Linked DNA regions of Homo sapiens: region 1 is linked to region 2. The links come from fine-mapping of genetic effects on gene expression. A gene starts in region 2. The other region holds a variant in brackets. All regions are shown on one strand. Distances are between the middles of the regions.

Evidence for each region. PIP is the estimated chance that this variant, and not a neighbour inherited with it, causes the effect. A credible set is the group of variants that fine-mapping cannot tell apart.
Region 1: its variant is the best candidate, but not a certain one, in a credible set for the expression of ADIRF-AS1 in whole blood (TOPMed, PIP 0.87).

What each region holds. Positions count from the first base shown.
Region 1 is chr10:86,941,457-86,951,915 of GRCh38, forward strand. MMRN2 (multimerin 2) reads right to left here. Exons shown (of 7, transcript NM_024756.3): 2 at 4,105-4,233; 3 at 3,914-4,020; 4 at 3,732-3,812; 5 at 2,806-2,979; 6 at 861-2,672. Among named protein-coding and RNA genes, the nearest start is that of MMRN2, 11 kb to the right of the region's middle. RefSeq lists an enhancer at 3,188-3,761. The variant CA/C (reference allele first, on the strand shown) is at 6,265.
Region 2 is chr10:86,966,714-86,977,172 of GRCh38, forward strand. ADIRF-AS1 (ADIRF antisense RNA 1) reads right to left here and starts at 4,527. Exons shown (of 2, transcript NR_170185.1): 1 at 2,329-4,527. It overlaps ADIRF (adipogenesis regulatory factor), which reads left to right and starts at 1,769. Exons shown (of 3, transcript NM_006829.3): 1 at 1,769-1,892; 2 at 3,487-3,549; 3 at 3,763-4,202. The coding sequence starts at 1,832. The coding sequence ends at 3,869. It overlaps LOC124902474, which reads left to right and starts at 4,692. Exons shown (of 3, transcript XM_047426123.1): 1 at 4,692-4,851; 2 at 6,400-6,544; 3 at 7,456-8,102. The coding sequence starts at 4,692. The coding sequence ends at 7,567. It overlaps AGAP11 (ArfGAP with GTPase domain, ankyrin repeat and PH domain 11), which reads left to right and starts at 3,623. Exons shown (of 11, transcript NR_171046.1): 1 at 3,623-4,202. RefSeq lists enhancers at 1-455, 296-475, 2,715-3,468, 3,469-4,220, 4,057-5,256 and 1 more and silencers at 2,579-2,873, 4,455-5,004.

The DNA of each region.
Region 1 (10,459 bases), 25 kb before region 2:
TCTTATTGTACTGTACTCACCTATTTTCTGATCGTGGTTGATGCAAGAAACTGAAATCAAGGCTGGGCACATGGCTCACACCTGTAATCCTAACACTTTAGGAGGCTGAGGTGGGCAGATTACTTGATCCCAGGAATTTGAGACCAGCCTGGGCACCATAGCAAGACCCTGTCTCTACAAAAAGTACAAAAATTAGCTAGGCATGGTGACACATGCCTGTAAGTCCTAGCTACTCTGGAGGCTGAAGTGGGAGGATCAGCTGAGCCTGGAGAGGTCTAGGCTGCAGTGAGCCATGATCCCACCACTGTACTCAAGCCTGGACGACAAAGTGAGACCCATCTTAAAAAAAAAAAAAAAAAGAAAAGAAAAAGAAAAAAAAAACAAAAAAAAAACTAAAATCATGGAAAATGAAACAGAACTAAGTGGGGCTGCAAGTGGCCACAGTCCCTATCCACATTCTTCCTAGATACAGTGGCTTAAACGCACATGGGAATGAAGGGGGTGAGGTGAAGAGATGAGATGGGGGGACTTGAAGGCTGCCCTGGCAGGGCAGGAGGCGATGCCCTCTCTGTAGCAGGAGCAGTAGGCGGCACTATTGTGCCTGTGGCCTCCAGGCTATGCCGCTCACGGGCTCTGGCACTAGCAGGTGGTTCTTGTGACTTCTGTCTCCCCATAAGCCAGGTAGCTTGAGAGACCCACACCCCTGAGAAGCAGGTGGGCCAAGGGGAAGGTGGACCTAGTAGGGGTGACGGATGGCCATCCTGTTCTCTTTCTTCCTGGCCCTCTTGGAGGCAGAAGAGCTGCCGGCAGCCGGCCCTGGCCTCCTAGGCTCGTCCAGTCTCCCCAGCCCAGGAACTCACCTGCCTCCCAGAGCGCCGCGCCCAAGGCACCTGGCACAGGCCCTGTGACCCGTATGTCCACCAAAGGCTCCGCTTCCTTCTTGTCCCTCTTCCGGGGAGCTTCCAGGTCTTTCTGCTGCTTCTTCCCTTTCCTGCTCAGCATGGTCTGCAGCTTCCCCAGGTCCAGGCTGACGTTGGCTTCCATGAGCCCTTGGAAGTTCCCAAAGAGGCTGTGGAAGAGCCGCTGGTGCTGCTCCAAGCTGCGCTGAGTGGCGAAGAGTGCGTTGTGGAGGCCGTGAAGGGAGGCGTTGAGGGAGGCGGCCCCGGCCCCGGCCTCGGCCTCGCAGCACCGCCCGACATTCTTGACGTCGTTGCTCAGGCTCTGGAGCTCCCGCGCCAGCCCGGCCAGGGCGGTGGTGGCGGCCTCCTCGCGGCCCGCGTCGTGGCTGGGCTCCAGGTGCTCTGCCGGCCGCGGGGGCTCCGAGGCCTGCTCCAGGGCCGTCACTCGGGCGGCCAGCTCGTCCCAGCCGAGCGCCTGCTCCTGCAGCCCGCTAGCGGCGTCCTGCAGGGCCACGCGGATCTGCTCGTAGCTCAGGGGCAGCGGTCCCGGCGTCTGCTCAGACATCTCCTCCAGCACCTCCTCCCCGAAGAGCGCGGCCAGCACCGCCTCGTGCCGCAGCGCGTCCTCCAGCAGGGCGGCGAAGGCGCTGTGCAGCTGGCGCACCTCGTGGCGGGCCTCGGCCGCGGCCGCCTTCAGCGCGCCCACCTCGTCATCCAGCGCCTGCACTTGGCTCCGGAGCCGCGACGTGGCCGCCCGCGCCCGCTCGCCCTCCGCTTTGTGCGCGTCCACGGCCAGCGACACGGCGTCCACGGCGTTCTGCAGGGCCTGCAGGGAGGAGCCGTCCAGCTGCCGCCGCTCGTCCAGGCTCACCTGGGTCTCCTCCAGGGCACGCGTGGCGTCCCTCTGGCCCTCCCGGATGACGTCCAGGTCTAAATAGAGCTTCTGGCAATTGCAGTCCTTCACGTACTTGATGAGGTCGGCATGGCCACCCTGCAGGTGCTGCAGCGTGAGGTTGAGCTCCAGGAGCTGCCGCTCCACCTCCTCCTTGTTCTCCTCCATGATCAGAGACTTCTCCATCAGGATCACGCGCAGCTCACGGAGCGCCGTGTGGTTCACCTGCAGCTCCTCCACCTGCCGCTCCACCTTGCTAATCTGATCGAAAGTCTCGTCCGATTCGGAGTACAGTTCCTTGATCTCATCCACGTGCCGGGTCAGGGTGGCCCTCATGTCCTCCAGGGTGTACTGCAACTCCTCCTCCCTGCGGGCCGTGGTCATGTGCAGCTCTGAGAGGTTCCTCTGCAGCTGGCCCAGCCTGGCCTGCAGGCTGTCCGGCTCAGGCCTTGCCCCAGCCCCAGGCGTTGCCAACACCAGACTGCCATTGGTCCCTGGGGCCTCCTGAGCCTTGTGCAGCCTCTTCAATTTGGTGTCCACATCGGCTTGGAGCTCTGAGATCGAGCGGTGCAGGGTAAAGTGCTGGGCGTGCAGGCGGTCCTCCACGTCCTGTCGCAGCTGACCCACTCTCTGAGTGTTCTCCTGGACCTTGGCCTCAAATTTGGCACCAAGCTCCTGGAAGTCAGCCCTGGCCACGGCACTGTCCTGGACTCTGGAGATGGCCTGGCGGTTGGCCTCCACGTCAAGAGACAGGTTTCTTATGGCCTGGGTAAGGCTGTGCAGGCTTTGGTTAAAGCTCCTCCAGATGGGGCTGAAATGCACTTGTAGGAAGGTGTCCACGTGGGGTAGCAGCACCTGCTCCAAGGATCTATCAGGGAACTCTGCAACAGACATGTGGTGTGACACAAGCCCTGCAGGAGCAGACACTCCTCCCAGGCTGGGACCAGCGGGGTCCTCCCCTCCTCCCCTCAATGTGACCAGGCTCTTCCTCAGCCCCTAGAGCCTGCCACTCACCGTGCCCTGTTTGATTTGCTTCCATCACTGCAGCTGTGAGGTTACCAGGCAGGGCTTTCCACAGGCCTGGCAGGCTGTCTGCCACCCGGTGCACATCATTCTGGAGATCTCCCAGCAGATGTTCCTGCTGTTCCTGTTGCACCTCAACCTCATTGATCACTGCAGCAAGGTGGCCTAAATACACAGCAGACATAAATGTCAAGGGCTAACTCACCAGGCCTGGGAAGATCACAAGGTTCAGAGAAGGAGAGTTGAAGGCTGAGAGCAGGGAAGTTAGCTGCTGATGTCCTCTGAGCAGGAGCTTAGAAGCCTTAAACCCCTGGAGGGCAAATGCATAGCAAGTGAGCCCTCACCCTGCCTCCTACACCTACAGCAGACATGACTAATCAATCATGGTACACTCCCCTCCTCAGCACATGCACATGGCCTCACAACTTCATTCTTGGCAGCCCTTGTCAATAAATACTTCACCACATAATGAAACTCATTTACTTTCTCAATCTTGGGCCCAGCCTTAAAGGGCCCTGCTGCAAATGGTGTCTCTTGGTGGGTTTCCTGTGCTGACTCCAAGACCAAGGACAGCATGACTTCCTGGCTCTGGTTAGGGCTGTGGGAAAGGGTGAGAATGCTTTTTCCAGGCACAAGGGCTTGTGTGGTTCAGCGGGGCAAGGAAAGTGCCAGATGAACCAGTCCTTCCCAGAAGATGGGGTGAAGGAAAAGGGTGTGTGTGCTTGGCCAGTAGGCCGCTGGGGGCCCTGTGAGCCTGGCCTTCAAGGTGGGAGGTGGTACAGGCCACAGAGCAGGCCTTGCTGATTCTGGAGGCAAGGTTTCCCTGAAATGGCACTGCTGTATCACAGGAAAAAGGGCCAGCTGGCTACATGGGCCCCACCAGCCTGCCTGCCTTCCCCTTCCGGAAAGCAACACACCAGGTTTGAAGCTGACTGGTCCATCCTGAGGTTCCTGGTGGCTGTCACCAGGATCTGCAGGCTCAGGGATTGCCATGGAATCTGCAGAAGAAAGCATTAGTTATTGACCCCAGTGGTCAGAGGAGCTGCTTGACCTTGGGGATCAGAGGTCAAGGGGGGAAGGGGGCCGCAGGGAGCCCTACCGTGGTGCTCGCAGTTGGGGCCCGTGTAGCCAGGGCAGCACCTCCAGGCCAAAGAGGTCAGCACCTTCTGCTTGACCTGGTACACTGGCTTGTGGGCCATGCGGTACCTGGAAGAGGAGAAGGGCTGGCTCAGTGATTCCAGGGAGGGCCCGCTCCAGGCCTGGGCAAATGGCCCACCCTCCCCTACTCACATGACTTTGACTTTCTGGCAGTCTGGAGCTCCCTGCGGACACGGCTGCTGCGAGTGGATGAGGAATTTCTCTGTTTTGCAAAGAGCTAGTAAGGTGACCAGCTTGGACATTGGGTAGGGGCACCAGTTACTGGAAAACAAGCCAGAGGAGAAGGCTGCTGAGCCACACCCAGGTCAACAGGGGGTGCCAGTGCAGAGCCACCGGTCCTCGCCTCCTGCCGGAGCAGTGCTGGGATTCTGGAATCCATTATCCTGAGAAGAGAGCCTTCCGCATTATTCATCCCTGGGCTCCAGAGCAAATGTTTCACAATCCCTACCTGCAAAGAGGGCACCTGCTCCACCACCTTCCCGAAGCCTCCCCGAGCCAGCAGAGAGGCTGAGAAACCCACCACAATCTAGAACTGTGAAAAGCAGCTCCAGGGTGATGATTGTTTTAGCCAACAAAACTAACAGCCAGAGTGTGGGGAAAACACCGTGTGCACTGCAGCTGTCTGCATGGATTCCCTTTGGTGAGGTTAGCCACAGAGCCAGAAAGCTCTCGCTGTTTCTCCTGCTACCAACGTGCAGCTGGGGCTGGAGAATCCTGGGTTCGAATCCCTCACACTTTCTGGCTGTGTGACCCTGAGTGAGGCACTTAGGGAGCTTCTCTTTCCCCATCTATACAATGGCGATCGTAATGCCCTCCTTTAAGTGGGCAGAGAAGCACCAGGTGCCTGGCTCCTGACAAGCGTTCTGTGAACACAGCTCCACTGCCCCATTCCAGCTGCCCTGGCAGCCTGCCCAGTTGCTACTTACATGAGGGACCAGCTCCCTGGCCATGCCCATTAGGACCATTCTAGAAAGGGACTTTCAAACAGTTGTCCTAAGGAAAGGTAAGCAGCTGGGTGGAGCAGTGTCCTCTCTGGGATGGCCACCGCATCAAGGTCATGCAAGGTGGTTGGGGGTCACACTCAGCATCCCGCACACCTGATAGGTAGCCCTTCCATCCTGGCCCTTCACCAGCATGTACTGTGGTGGTCCCAGGAGCGGGGGGACACTCATGCTGACAGAGCCCCAGTTCACAGACCCAGTGGCTGACTCCATGGGGTCAGTGGCAGTGGTCAGAGAGCCCTTCCCCAGGCAGCCAGCTCCCAGAACAGAGCTCGTCAGAGTTGAAAGTGGCAATGATCTCTGTGGCACAGTACAGCTCAGCACCTCTTGGGTGCCGGGTGCTGCACTCAAGCTCAGGGTGTGGATGTGGAGGTGCAGACTTTCCCTTCAGGATCCCCAGGGAGAGCGGGCACTCTTAGAATGGGTGAGAAGTGCTAGGATCTGCAGAGACTTTCAGGAGAAGGAGCTAATGGGGCTGTGTCTTAAGGCCAGAAAGTCGGATGAGGCACCAGATGTGACAGGGGTGCAAGAGGGTGAGGAAGGGGCTGCAGAAGGAGGCTGGGATGAAGGGAGAAGCCAGACCTCAGCGGAGGAGCTGGCCCATGTCCTGAGGGCATGGGAAATCATGGAGGGGTTTCAGCAGGGAAGTGGCATGAAAGAGCCACCCTGGTCCCTGGGTGCAGAGATGATGGGAGGGCAAGACGTTGGCAGCTGTGTCCACGGTCTGGGGAGAGATGATGGCAACTTGGACTGAGTGATGGTGGACATGGGAGAAGTGGCCACATTTGTGGGCTCTTAGAAAGCAGCATTCAGAGGCCTTGGTGATGAAGTGGCTGTCAGTGCCGGGATTTTATTCTCTGGAGCCGGTCTTTGTCCTGGGGCCATCAAGCACTGTCACACAGGGGATAGTGTTGGGAAAGGCAGGGGCGGGGGATTCGAGTGACTTTTTTTTTTTTGAGACGGAGTCTCGCACTGTCGCTTGGGCTGGAGTGCAGTGGTGCAATCTCGGCTTGCTGCAACCTCCACCTCCCAGGTTCAAGCGATTCTCCTTGCCTCAGCCTCCCAAGTGGGCTGGGATTACAGGTGCCCACCACCAAGCCTGGCTAATTTTTTTTGTATTTTTAGTAGAGACGGGGTTTCACTATGTTGGCCAGGCTGGTCTTAAACTCCTGACCTCGTGATCCACCTGCCTCAGCCTCCCAAAGTGCTGGGATTACAGGCGTGAGCCACTGTACCCAGCCGAGTGACCATATTTTGAGTGCTGAGTCCCCAGCCTGCTTTACCCTCTCAG[CA/C]GCAGACTGGAAAAGTTTCTCAGGAAAATAAGCCAGCCCGAGAGGAAAAGACCCAAAGCTGCTGACAGCAGGGGTTCTCCCATAAAAATAGCCAACCAGAAGATCCTATGACAAAATGGGTAAGAAAGGAGTATTCATACACCCCAGCTTCCAGTCAGTTTCTCAGTCTTTCTCCTCTTAAGTGAGCAGACATCCAAGATTTACCCAAGAAACACTGTATTCCAAAAGAGGGCCAGGTACAGTGGCGCACGCCTGTAACCCCAGCACTTTGGGAGGCTGAGGTGGGAGGATCCTTGGAGCCCAGGAGTTTGAGTCCAGCCTGTGCAACGTAGTGAGACCTCATCCCTACAAAAAATTAGCCAGGTGTGGTGGCGCATGCCTGTAGTCCCAGCTATTCAGGAGGCTGAGGTAGGAGGATTGCTTGAGCCCAGAAGTTTGAGGCTGCAGTGAGCCATGATTATGCCACTACACTTCAGCCTGGGTGCACAGCAAAACCCTATCTCAAAAAAAAAAAAAAAAAAAGAGGTTGAAGTGGGCAAACAAAAAAATGTCAACCTGGACAAAAACTAAGACTGTGTAAGGAGAAGAGAACCACTCAAACATTTGTACTAAGATTTCCAGGTTGATAAAAGAAATTACTGCACCCAAGAAACAAGACCAGGAAGCTATGAAAAAAACAAATGAGGGGGAGATGGGAGAGGAAGCGTGAGCATTCAGAAAACAAAAAGGAACTCTTGGAAATTAAAAACGTAACAGTAAAAATGAAAATAAATTTAATGGAAACGTTAGAGGGTAAAGTTAAAGAAATTTCCCTAAAAGAGCAAACAGAGAGATGAAAATTGGAAAGAGAAAAGAAAAATAGACGACCAGTCTTGCAAATGTAACATCCAAGTAGTACAAATTTCAGAAAGAGAGAACAGATGGAGAAAATCATCAATGAAAAAAAATCAGGCCGGGCATGGTGGCTCATGCCTGTAATCCCAGTATTTTGGGAGGTTGAGGCAGGAGGATCACTTGAGCTCAGGAGTTCGAGACCAGCCTGAGCAACATGGCAAGATCTCAATCTCCACAAAAAAATTAAAAAATTAGCCAGGTGTGGTGATGTACACCTGTAGTCCCAGCTCCTCAGATGGCTGAGGTGGAAGGGTCCCGTGAGCCCAGGAGGTTGAGGCTTCAGTGAGCTATGATTGCGCCACTGGACTCCAGCCTGAGCAAAAGAGCGAGACCTTGTCTCAACAACAAACAAAAAACATATTCCAGAAGTTAAGGACTTCAATTTCCAGATTAAAAGCACCACCAGTTACCTGCAATATGATGAAAATACACTTACATCAAAACATGTCATATGAAATTTTAGAACTCTGGGAACAAAGATGGTTTCTACGTGCTTCCAGAGAGGAAAACCAAGACAAACACACTCATACAAAATCAGTAATTGGAATGGCTTTGAACCTCTCAACAGCAATATTGGAAACTGGAACACAGTGAAAATTGCATTCAAAATACTGAAGAAAAATAATTTACAACCCAGAATCTCATATCCAGCCTAACTATGAACCAGTGTGGGGAGTGAGAATAAAGACATTTTCAAACAACCCAGGTTTCAGAACATTTACCTCCCATGTATCCCAGTAGGAGACTACCTGATGAGCAGTGGTTTGAAATATTGCCTGCACATCAACACCATCATGCAAGCCAGGTGTGGTGGCTTGCACCTGTAATCCCAGATACTCAAGTGACTGAGGTGGGAGAACTGCTTGAGGCCTGGAGTTTGAGATCAGCCTGGAGACATAGTGAGACCCCATCTCAAAAAAAAAAAAAGACACCCAAAAACAAAACCATTGTGTGACACTTTAAAAATAATAGTCTTGGGGCTGGGTGTGGTGGCTCATGCCTGTAATTCCAGCACTTTGGGAGGCCAAGGCAGGTGGATCACTTGAGGTCAGGGGTTCCAGACCAGCCTGGCAAACATGGCAAAACCTTGTCTCCACTAAAAATACAAATATTAGCCGGGCATGGTGGTGCACGCCTGTAATCCCAGCTACTCGGGAGACTGAGGCAGGAGAATCACTTGAACCCGGAAGGCAGAGGTTGCAGTGAGTGGAGACTGTACCACTGCACTCCAGCCTGGGTGACAGAGCGAGACTCCGTCTCAATAATAATAATAATAATGATAATAATAATAATAATAATAGTCTTGGGCCAGGTGCAGTGGCTCATGACGATCATCCCAACACTGGGAGGCCGAGGCAGGAAGACTGCTTGAGACTAGGAATTTGAGACCAGCCTGGGCAATATAGTGAGACTTCATCTCTACAAAAAATACAAAAAATAATAAAAAGAGGCCGGGTACGGTGGCTCATGCCTGTAATCCCAGCACTTTGGGAGGCCGAAGCAGGCGGATCACGACGTCAGGAGTTTGTGACCAGCCTGGCCAACATAGTGACACCCTGTCTCTACTAAAAATACAAAAAATTATCTGGGCATAATCTCCTAATTATCCTAGCTACTTGGGAGGCTGAGGCAGAAGAATCGCTTGACCCGGGAGGCAGAGGTTGTGGTGGGCCAAGATCACACCATTGCACTCCAGCCTGGGTGACAGTGAGAGACTCCGTCTCAAAAATAATAATAATAATAAAAAGAAAGAAAAATAATAGTCTCCTAGATCCCCTGAGCTTAGGGCCTGAGCACCAGCATTTTAAGGCTCTCTGGGTAATTGCATGGCACACCCAGGATGCAGAACCGTGGTGTCACAGGAAACACTCTAACAAAACAACAGAGAAAATCAAGAAAGAGAAAGCACAAGATCAGGAAACAGGTTCCAACACAAAAACCAGGTGAAGAGAGCCTCCAGAATGACAATGGGCTGTGGTATGAGGGCAGCAGTTCACATTGGAACACACCTGGAGGCTCTGGGAGCCACATCTCCAAGAAGATGCAGCTGATCTGACACCTGGCATGAATGAGTGTAGAGAGCAGATGTGGACAACTGGCTGAGGGTGTGGAGTTGAGTTAGTGATAAAGACACAGAATAAGCAGAAGAAAAAAGCAAGACATGAAATTTTAGAACTCTGTGAGTTCTAAATTTTTACTACAGGGAAAACCAAAAGTGTGCAAGGGGGCAAAAAAGTTTCACAGTTTATTTCAAGGCTTAATGCTGAGCAGTACACATGGCCCTATGGATGCGTGCACATGCATTTGCTTTGGGGTAGGAATGAGATCTAGCTCATAGATAATGCTACTTCCATCCCAGCTACTCGGGAGGCTGAGGCAGGATAATTGCTTGAATCTGGGAGGTGGAGGTTGCAGTGAGCCAAGATCACGCCATTGCACTCCAGCCTGGGCAACAAGAGTGAAACTCCATCTCAAAGAAAAAAAAAGATAATGCTACCTCCTAAGAAGTAGCAATGCAAGCATGTTCTTTAGTGATACAGAGGTAAATGCAAAAGAATCACCTGCAAAGTTGAAAGTCATTGCCCTTGGGACCAGAGGGAGCTGGGGCTTCTGACTGTCTCAACAAGCCTTATAGAACCAGTTGACTCCTAATCAGGAGATCAGCAAACTTTTTTTCTAAGGGTACAGGTAGTAAATATTTGACACAAGGCCAGCTACATAATCTTCAGGGCCCAGTGCAAAATGAATATGTGGGGCCTCTCCTTCAAAAAGTATGAAGAATTTCAAGATGGTGACACCCAGGGTGGGGCCCTCCAGAGTGCAGGGCCTTGTGTGTGACTGCACAGGTCACATGCCCCTGATGCTGGCCATGGTTTCAGGCTTTCCAGGCCACATGAACTCTGTCCCATCTACTCAACTCTGCCATTGTACCACAAAAGAAGTCAATGACAACATATAAATGAACCAGCCTGTCTGTGCTCCAATAAAACTTTGTTAGCAAAAACAGGTGATGGGCTGGATTTGGCCCACTGGCCATAGTTTTCTGACCCCTGCCTATGAGTATATATAACTAATAAAAATGAAACTTAAAAAAAAAATCATTTTCATCAGGAAGAGAAAATGCAGATGAATAATCAAGAACAGTTTGGAACCTGGACACAGTGACTCATGCCTGTAATCCCAGCACTTTGGGAGGCCCAGGCAGGAGGATCACTTGAATGCAGGAGTTTCAGACAAGACTGGGCAACATGGCACAACCCTGTCTCTACAAAAAATACAAAAATTAGCTGGGTGTGGTGG
Region 2 (10,459 bases):
ACGTGGAGCTCTCTCTACCACCATCTGCTGGGGGCTGGCTGTCTCTTCCCACAGAGGCTGCTCCCTTCCTGTCCAGCTCACAGCTCATTGCCCATGGGGCCTGGAGCCCAGTGGCACCACCAGCCTGTGATAAACTGGAACACTCGAAGGCCTGCCTGGCTATTGGGCACTACCGGTGGGATTTCAGGAGGGCTGGCAGGGCTGTGGCCAGCCAGGCAGGGCATGGCTGAGATGGGCTCCCCAGAGTCCCCAAGGCATCCATATGGCCGCTCCCAGGGCAAGGCCTCGCTCTGGGAGAGGAGGGGCGGGGGGCTGGGAGGACTGTTGCTGCCGCTTTGTTTTGCCTGAGACCTGCTCCCTCCCCCTTCCTCCACCTAATCTCATCACCTGCCTCTTCCCTTTGCCCAGGGTTGACCTCATCTCCATTAATCCATACCGTGTGTGTGTGTGTGTGTGTGTGTGTGTGTGTGTGTGTGTGTGTGTGTGTACAGGTGCACTTCCAAACAACTCCCTCTAGGGGCTGACCCCGCAGCACTAGAAGCAGGGTATGTGCCAGCAGACCAAGCCTGTGTGGCAGGGGCTTCCCAGCGCTCCAGAATAGGGGAGACACCAGCAGAGGTGCAAGAAACAGCCCCGGACAGGAAGCGGTAGAGAGACCCAGAAAGGCAGGGTGGGTGTGCACTGGCCTCCAGGTCCTGAAGGCCTACTCTGGAGTGGGAGTATACCCAGCTGGGTGGGGCCTGACCTACACCCCTTGTGTGCCAGGGGAATGTATCTTGCAAGCTGTTTTGCTGCACCCAAGGATGATCTTCTCCACTCAGGCCCAGGTCCCTAAGTCCCCTCCTAACAGCCACAAGTCATACTCTCTAGCGCCTTGCCTGCCCCATCTCAGGAAAGGTGACCTGAGAGGCCCAAGCTTATTCCTGCCCTCCCTGAGCCATGCTTCCTGCCCAACTTCCTAAGGCTTCGGTGACAGACGGCAATCTCCTTGCCTGGGCTGCACAGGCACACTGCCCTCTCCCCCTTGGGGTTGCATGGTCTGCAAGTGCACACACCTGTATCTCGCCCTCTCAGGGGAAAGATTTACCAGGCCCTCTCCGGCTGCATCCACTGGGTCTCTGGCTACAGGCAGAGAGCCAGTCAGCAGTGCCCCTGCAGCTGTTTGGGGCTGGGGGCTCCGATGATGCCAGAGCCCTAGGGTTTACAGGCACCTAGGCAGATTCGAGGATCCAAGTCCCTGCCACATGCGTTTGGGTGAGACCGACCTCACTGCCTCAGTTTCCTCCTATACACTGATGCTATCAACAAAAATACCCACTTCAGGAGGTGGTTGTAAAGATTATACAAGAGACTGCAGAGCGTTAGGCAGCACCTGGCACAAGACAAATGCTCAGTAAAAGACCACTGCTGTCATTAAGGTCAACACCAGCCCTGAGCTCCTGCCCTGGAGCTGACCCAGCGCTCACGCCCAGGATCAGAAAGGGAGGGCTGGGGCTGATGAGCTGGGAGGTGGTGTGCGCCCTTCTCCTGCCTCCAGCTCCTCTCTGGACCCCTGTCCTGGCACCTCTTCGGTCCCTGGTTCGGTCTGCCCCTTTCCCACCGCGGCCCGTCTTAGGCCAGGATGTGCTCCCTGCCCTGCGGACTCTGGAGCAGGGCCCGGCCACTCCCCGGAGCCTGTATGACGGGAACCGCCCCGCGCCCTCTCCCCTACGCGGGGCAGGCCAGCCCTGGGGCGCCTTAAAAACCGGAGCTGGCGCTTGGCATCGCCACTCTGGGCAGGATCCAACGTCGCTCCAGCTGCTCTTGACGACTCCACAGATACCCCGAAGCCATGGCAAGCAAGGGCTTGCAGGACCTGAAGCAACAGGTGGAGGGGACCGCCCAGGAAGCCGGTGAGGATAGCGCGCGACCTAGGGCTCAGGCAGGGGCACCTGCGTGGATGCGCAGGCAGAAGCAGCGGGTCGGCGCGGTCCGCAAGTTCCTGGACCGGCAGCTTGGCTCGGAAGGCTCGGTCCTCCACTGAGACGCAGGGGGCAGGCAGAACGCCCACCCCGGCGAGCAGACAGATGGTGCCCGCAGGGAGGCAGCGGAACAGAGGCTCCGGAGGAGCCGGAGCTGCGCTGCGGGCACTGCGGGAGCCCCTCCAAGGAGGCCATGCTGGCGCTGGGCGGCCCGCCCAGGCCCTCAGGAGAGGGTGAAGGTCCAGGACAGGGATCGGGCGCGGCCCGCCACCACTTAAACCCGCGCGCGCCACCAGAGGCTGCCCCAGACCTCAAAGGGCTTTGTTTCCATCCCACCCCCATCGCCGAAAAGTAATCGTCGCCTTACCTTTAAGTCCCCACCTGGCAAAGAAGGTCCTTAGTTCCTCCACCTCCAGCTCTCTCCTCCGTATTCTGGAGGTGACCCAGCTGCGGTGGGGGCGTGGGAGATGTCAGGAGACCACTGGGTTGGTTCTTCCTGCACCTAGCCCAGGCTTCGTTAGGACTCCAGCTCCCTGTCAGTCCTGCCCATATCCCAGTCAGGAGACAATATCCAAACCAACCCCTTACTTCACCAGTGCTCCAGGGGAGGCCCACAGTTCTTCCCTTGAGACTGAAATGCTACCAAGGAAGCCTCCGTGTCAGGTCCCTTCCTTCTGGGCTTCACTTTTCCATCTGAGAGCTGGGTGCAAAGGATGGGCTGCTTTCTGATGGGTTAATCGAGACGAGGTTCCCAGGGGCCTCTCAGCACACTTGCCTGACTAACCCTTTCCGGAGGATGGGATCTGGGTAAGGCAGGCCCTTTCCTGTTCAGCAGCAGGGATGAGTTACAGCTCTGTAGGCGGGAGCCACCTGTCAGCCCCCCCGGGGCTGGTGACTCCATTCCCAGCAGGCCGAAACTCTGGTCCAGAGGAGATAGTCCGGCCTTGGAAGTTTTGCCTCCTTCCTTCATTTGTCTCCTAATGTCTTAAGCTGCCTGTCCACAGAGGCACTGGCTTTGCTTGTGTGCCCCTCCGGGCAGGCCACAGGAGGGAGGAGGCAGTAAGGACCTGGCAAAACTGCAAGCCCCAGGGCTAAGTGCATGAAAGGTGGGAATTCAGGCATCTGGGCCAGGCTTCTAGGGGAGAAGCTGTAAAAGGGGGCAAGGGTCTTCTGCGCCATCACCAGCATTAGCCAACAGTCCAGATGCTAGCTGCAGCCTGGCCCTGCCCTGCCTTCCTTCCTCTGTCCAACATTTTCTCAGTAGCCCTGGAGATGGAAAGGGAAGCTCCTCCCCCACAGAGAAGGAGCTCAGAGTTAGAAATAAACAAAAACATCCCAGAGGCATGGAAAGGTCTCCTGCCCCTCGGGCTGGGGGGCCCTGGGCCAGGGACTTTATCTCCATGGCATCCATCCCTTGGACCTGTACCACCGAATACTCTGGAGGACACAGAGGCATGGCAATGGTGGGGCACCTGTAGTCGGTGGTGCCTCAACAGGGGCTAAAAGCCACATCTCTCTGTTCCAGTGTCAGCGGCCGGAGCGGCAGCTCAGCAAGTGGTGGACCAGGCCACAGAGGCGGGGCAGAAAGGTCTGGTGGGGCTGGAGGGAGGCGGGCAACCCCAGCACACCTCCCACTCCCCGCCCCATCCCGGCTGGGGCCCAGGCACATCCTCTCCTCTGCAGAGCCCTCTGTCCACAATGCCCCAAGCAGGTCCCCCGGGAGACCCAGGCCAGGCTAAGCCTACAGGCACTGTGGTTCCCGGGCCCTGCCTGACCTGCCCTCTCTCCCGCCCTTCCCCAGCCATGGACCAGCTGGCCAAGACCACCCAGGAAACCATCGACAAGACTGCTAACCAGGCCTCTGACACCTTCTCTGGGATTGGGAAAAAATTCGGCCTCCTGAAATGACAGCAGGGAGACTTGGGTCGGCCTCCTGAAATGACAGCAGGGAGACTTGGGTGACCCCCCTTCCAGGCGCCATCTAGCACAGCCTGGCCCTGATCTCCGGGCAGCCACCACCTCCTCGGTCTGCCCCCTCATTAAAATTCACGTTCCCACCCTGTGTCCACTTCATGATTCCTCGCAAGCTGGGCCCAGTCCTCTCATCCCAAGAGCAGAGCCACCGTAGCCGGAGTCCTAGCCTCCCAAATTCGGAAATCCAATCCAACGGTCTCAGGAATGTTTTCCATCCCGCCACGCGCCTCCCGAAGCTCCCAGACCGGAGGCTCAGCCCCCATCTCGGTTAGTGCCCCTCTCCCGCCCGACTTTAGAGCCAGCCCCTGCCCCTTATTCCCTGCCCCAGGATCCCGGCCCCTCCTGGGAGCTGGGCTGGACTCGGTCCTCAGATCCTCGGAAGGCTCAGCTCTGGGCGGGGCAAGGGACCTTGCAAGTCGGGGGGGCCTCGGGAACTTCTCTCCGCCAGCTGCGACTGGAGGCTGGGAACAGGGGAGACGACCCAGGGCCACGGCCCCTCAGGACTTCAGGCGGCCGGAGGTTGTGGGGACGAAGCGGAGTCGGGAGCCGGGCTTCCGGCCCTCACTACCCCGTCTCGGCCCGCGGGTTGCCTGCGTGCCCGCCCCACCCAGCGGTGAGTCATGGGGCAGGGCCCGCGGGAAGCTTTGTTGAGTGGGGCGCTGCCGCCCGGCGGGGTCCCGCCCCGCCACTCCCCGGGGAGGGGCTTCGGGGCACGGGGCCGTGCACGTGAGAACGAAGCACGGTTGTGGGGGGGGCATGCACGTGCGCGCTCGCGTGCGGGAGACCCCTCCCTTCCACACCACTTCCTTTCGGGACAAACCGGTAACCTCCGGCCCTGGAAGGTTTTGTCTAGTGGGTTCCGGATGGACTGGTGTTCCCAGCACCCCCCCGGCACGTGTCCACGCGTGTGGCCCCGGTACGGTGTATGCCTTGCCAGTAGGTGACTCAACGTGGCACTGGTTGAGCGCCGGATGAGGCCTGGCCCTGGCGCGGGGCGTGGGCTGCTGCGGCCCTTTCCTCCCCGCGCCCCTCACGCCCCAGCGGGCCCCTAGCGGTTCCCGTCCACCCGCTCCATGTCTTTACCCCGGTACTACCTCCACCTGCAGTCGCCTCCTCCTGCGCGCCAGTGGCCTCTGCGTTTCTGTTGAAAGGTACCGACTACGCGGTGCTTCCCAGTTCTGAGGCGATTTAGTCAGCGGACTCAAGGCGCGCTCCCTGCCTTCCCCGGCCTCCCAGCAGGGGACGAAGTCCCCAACCTGGCTGCCAGTCCAGATGCTGCAGTACAGGTCTGCCTAGGAGGCCGTTCCCTTCTCCAGTCTGAGATCTCCCTCGCGGGGCACGTGTCTACCACCCTTAACCCAGGGCTGCCCTGGTTCCACTATCGGTTACATGTTGCTGACTGTCCCCAAAAGGTTTCTTTGTAGAATGTGGGAAAGTCCTTGAAGAGACACCCGGAGCAGTGTCAGGGGCGCTTCCAGGAGCCCCTGCCTCCAGGAGCAGGTCCTAGGGTCTGGAGAGCCGGCCTCAGGGCCACTCCAGGAGGCTGGTGGGGCTGGACTGGCAGAGCCCAGCATCCTTCTGGTGTGCATCATTCCCCTATGACTCAGGGATGAATCCCAAGGGACTTTTCACTTGTTCTCCTTGTGAGTGATCGCCTTAAGTGCGACCCAGGTGCGGCCAAGGAGAGAGATCAGGCCTGAGGCCAGGAGTCTTCTAGAAAAGGCTTTTCTTGTCTTGAAGGCGGGGCATGGTGGCTCAGCCTGTAATCCCAGCACTTTGGGAGGCTGAGGCGGGAGAATGACTTGAGACCGGGAGGTCGAGGACCGCTGCACTCAGTCTGGGCAACAGAGTGAGACCCTGTCTCAGAAAAAAAAAAAAAAGCCGCCCTTCATCTTCCTCTGGACACCTTGTGGCTGGAAAGGAACCCTAGAACCAGCCACTTGGAACCACAGGAGGAACAAGTCTGAGGAACAAGTCTAAGGAAAAGCCCACCTGCTGATGAGGGCAGAGCCTCCCAGACCTCCAGCCTGTTCCCACAACACCCCCTCCCTTCCATCTCAGCCACCTTGACCTTCCCATCATGCTCCTGCTGCCTCGGTATCTTCACACCTGCGGCATTTTCTGCCTGGCATACTCTCCATAAATCACCCTTGCCTATTGCTCTTCCAAACGTCAGGTCTCAGCGGCCTTGGGTGTGCCGACACACACACACACACACACACACACACACAATATGCATCAGGCCCCTGGTGACACATTCTCACACCCCCTGTACCTCCTTTTTAGAGTCACAATGAGCCTTCATGTGTGCTTCTCCATAGTGGTGGTTCATGGGGCTGTAACCAGTCCCTTTTTAGTGCATGCTCTGTGTCTTCTGCGGTGCTCAGGCAGCACTGGCTAAATGATTGCATGGAGGACCATCCTTTTGTTCTCCTGATGGATGACAGTGAGTTCTCATTTTCAGGTTTACCATGGAACCATCTCTGCAATGCAGCCCCTTCCACATTGCCCCAGCCCCATGGAGCTGGTGCTCCGGTGGCGCTGTGCAATTGCCTGTTCCTGTGTGCCTCTGCTCCCCCGACACTAGGAGCCCTGGAGGGCAGGGCCAGGTGGGACTTGCCTTTTGAACCATGTCTGGGACACAGAGGGCACAGAGCCAGTGTCTCTGTAATAGGTCCCTTGCCTGATGGCAGGGCAAGTCCATACACCCGAAACACCGGGTTGCAGCAGAAGAAAGAGGTTTAGTCGCAGGGCTGCCAGACAAGATGGGAGAAAACCTCAAATCTCTCTCCGAGAAGTTTGGGGTTAGGGTTCTTAAGAGTTTTAGAGCAGGCCAAAGTGTGGAGATTGTTGATTTGTTGAAGAGTGCGGAGTGAAGTCATGGGGCCAGGGAGATGAAAAAACTGTATTCTCATGCTGATTATGTTCTTCTGGGCTGTTCAAACTGGTTGGGGTCACTTGTTTCACTGGAATTTGGAATCTGAAAAACATTTTAGGCTGGATGCGGTGGCTCATTCCTGTTTTCCCAGTACTCTGAAGGCCAAGGTGGGCGGATCATCTGACGTTAGGAGTTCGAGACCAGCCTGGCCACATAGTGAAACCCTGTCTCTACTAAAAATACAAAAATTAGTCGGGTTTGGTGGCGTGCGCCTGTAATCCCAGTTACTTGGGAGGCTGAGGCAGGAGAATTGCTTGAACCTGGGAGGTGGAGGTTGCTGAGCCAAGATGGTGCCGCTGCACTCCAGCCTGGGCGACAGAGTGAGACTCTGTCTCGGAAAAAAAAAAACTGAAAAAACAAACGAAAAAAACGTTTTAAGGAATTCCTAAACAAAAGCCTATGATTCTAACATCAGAAAGCCGAACTGTGGGAACAGTGGGGATGCAGATGGTCAGTATACAGTGCCACGGGAAGTTCTATAGAAGGAATTTAGTTAAAGCACAGCCTCATTAATGCTTAATTATAACTGTTAATTTTTAATTATAACTGTTAATGCTTAATTATAACTATATTTCTGTGTAGAATGCTTGTTAACCCTGTGAGGACAGCTTCACCAGAGGAGCCCTTGGGAGCTTATACTGCCCAGGCCTGTCTCCACCAGGTTCATGGAGCAAGTACAGCCCAGACTGGCTGAGGAGGAAGGATTGTGGCCACACTACACCTATTGGGTGTCAGTCAGTCCTCCAGAGATCAATTCTTCCATTAGCAATGCCACACATAATTCCTAATTCTCCAAATTCCAGTTCCCCATCTAGCCAAACACACAGTCACTAACATTACATTGTGGTTCCACTTACAAATGACTGCATTTTCAGGTGGAGGTGTTCCCTTAAACCATTTTCTCTGGATGGCGTTCCTTCCTCCCTCTTCTTCTTCATCCCCATTTTCAGTCCGTAGGATGAGCTTCTTTGTATGTAATCTCCCAAACGTCTACCGCTGGAGTTCTCAGCTTTGACCCCCATCAGACTACACATGAGGCAGGGTGCAGATTCTTCCACTTTCACCTCCTCTCCCCTTCTCTCCCTCCGCCGCCTTTTTAAAAAATGTTACTTGTCCCATTTCTACATTGTGAAAACACGTAGAGTTGCATTCCATTCCTCAGCCCTGAACCACACCTTTGTTTTTGTCTTGGATCTGCAATTGAAGATATTAAAAGCTGTTTGCCATTCCTTCTGCTGAATATTTTCTGCTATCTCTTGGTTGGTTAGAATTAGTCCTGCAGAGTCTTCTCTCTCTCTCTCTCTCTCTCTTTTTTTTTTGAGACAGAGTATCACTCCTGTTACCCAGGCAGGAGTGCAGTGGCACAGTGTCCGCTCACTGCAACCTCCACCTCCCAGGTTCAAGCAGTTCTTCTGCCTCAGCTTCCGGAATAGCTGGGATTACAGGTGCCTGCCACCACGCCTGGCTAATTTTTGTATTTTTAGTAGAGATGGGGTTTCACCATTTTGGCCAGGCTGGTCTCAAATACCTGATCTTAGGTGATCCATCAGCCTTGGCCTCCCAAAGTGCTGGAAGTACAGGTGTGAGCCACCGCACCCAGCCCAGAGTCTTCTCAAGAATGAAATAGTTAAAGATGATAAATGTTTACAGAGATAAGACATCTGATATCTGAGTTAATAATTTCTATAACTGGGTAATGGGTCCATGAGGGTTCATTTTATTTATATATATATATATATTTATTTATTTATTTATTTATTTTTTTGAGACAGAGTCTTCCTCTGTTGCCCAGGCTGGAGTGCACTGGCATGATGTCGGCTCACTGCAGCCTCCGTCTCCTGGGTTCAGGCGATTCTCCTGTCTCAGCCTCCTGTCTCAGCTCATGCCTGTAGCTGGGATTGCAGGCATGTGCCACCATGCCTGGCTAATTTTTGTATTTTTAGTACAGACAGGGTTTCACTATGTTGGCCAGACTGGTCTCGAACTCCTGACCTCAGGTGATCCTCCCACCTCAGCCTCCTGAAGTGCTGGGATTACAGTCGGGAGCCACCGTGCCCGGCCCATTATATTCTATTTTTGTGTATGACATTTTCTATTTTTAAAACGGTAAAAAAGTTAAAATAAAAATTTTATAAAAAGAAGGGCTTATGTGAACAGTATTCTGATTTTTAAATGTTTGGTTGGTATTGTTAGTCTGTAGCCTTTAGACTTTATCCCTGGCTGGGTTTGAGGTTTGTGGCTCCCTCTTCAGCTTCAGTGTCTTCTAGGTGTGGCTGCAACTGCCTTCTGGCACAGAAGGTTGAGCAGACCCTACATGTCTGATGCACACTGAAATTTCTTTTTTTATTTTTAATTTTAATTTATTATTTATTTTGAGATGGGGGTCTCACTATGTTCCCCAGGCTGGTCTCAAACTCTTGGCCTCAAGCAGTCCTCCCACCTTGGCCTAACAAAGGGCTGGGATTACAGGTGTGAGCCGCTGCACCAGCTCCCTACTGGAATTTTTTTTTGTAGAGACAGGGAGGGTCTGGCTCTGTCACCCAGATTGGAGTGCAGTGGCCTGATCATGGCTCCCTGCAGCCTCAAACTCCTGGCCTCAAGCAATCCTCCTACCTCAGCCTCCCAAGTAGCTGGGATTACAGGTGTGTGCCACCATGCTCAGCTAATTAAAACAAATTTTTTTTTGTAGAGGTGGAGTCTCACTATGTTGTCCAGGCTGATGTCAAACTCCTGAGCTCAAGTGATCCTCCCACCTCAGCCTCCCCACAGCACTGGGATTACGGGTGTGAGCCACTGTGTCCAGACTCCTGCAGGAATTTCTAATAAGCAACATGATATTTCTGGCTTGTTTTCTTTCTTTAAGTTTAAAGTACAATAATTTTTCTAGAGTTTGTCTCAATGATTATGGCTCTGGTTCATTGTTGCCTGGTGTGCAGTTTGCCCTTTGAATACTAATTCAAGGCTGGGCGTGGTAGCTCAGGCCTGTAATCCCAGCACTTTGGGAGGCTGAGGTGGGAGGATAGCTTGAGCTCGGGAGTTTTAGATCAGACTGGGTGACAGTGATACCCCATCTCTACAAAAAATAGGAAAAGTATCCAGGTGTGGTGGTGCACGCCTGTAGTCCCAGCTACTTAAGAAGGCTGAAGTGGGAGGATCCCTTGAGCCCAGGAGTTGAAGGCTGCAGTGAGCCATGATTGCGCTACTGCACTCCAGCCTGAGTGGCAGAGTGAGATCCTATCTCAAAAAAAAAAAAAAAGTATATATGTATGTGTGTGTGTGTGTATATATGTGTGTGTATATATATGTGTGTGTATATATATGTGTGTGTGTATATATATGTGTGTGTGTGTGTGTGTGTGTATGTACCTGTGTATGTGTGGTGTATGTATACATATACATATATACCCAGAAGACAGATTGTTGGATCATAAGTTAGCTCTATATTTAATTTTTTGAGGAATCCCCATAGTGTTTTTCTTTCTTTCTTTCCTTCTTTCTTTTTTTAGACCAGGTCTTGCACTGTTGCCCAGGCTGGAGTGCAATGGCACGATCTCAGCCCACTGCAACCTCTGCCTCCTGGGTTCAC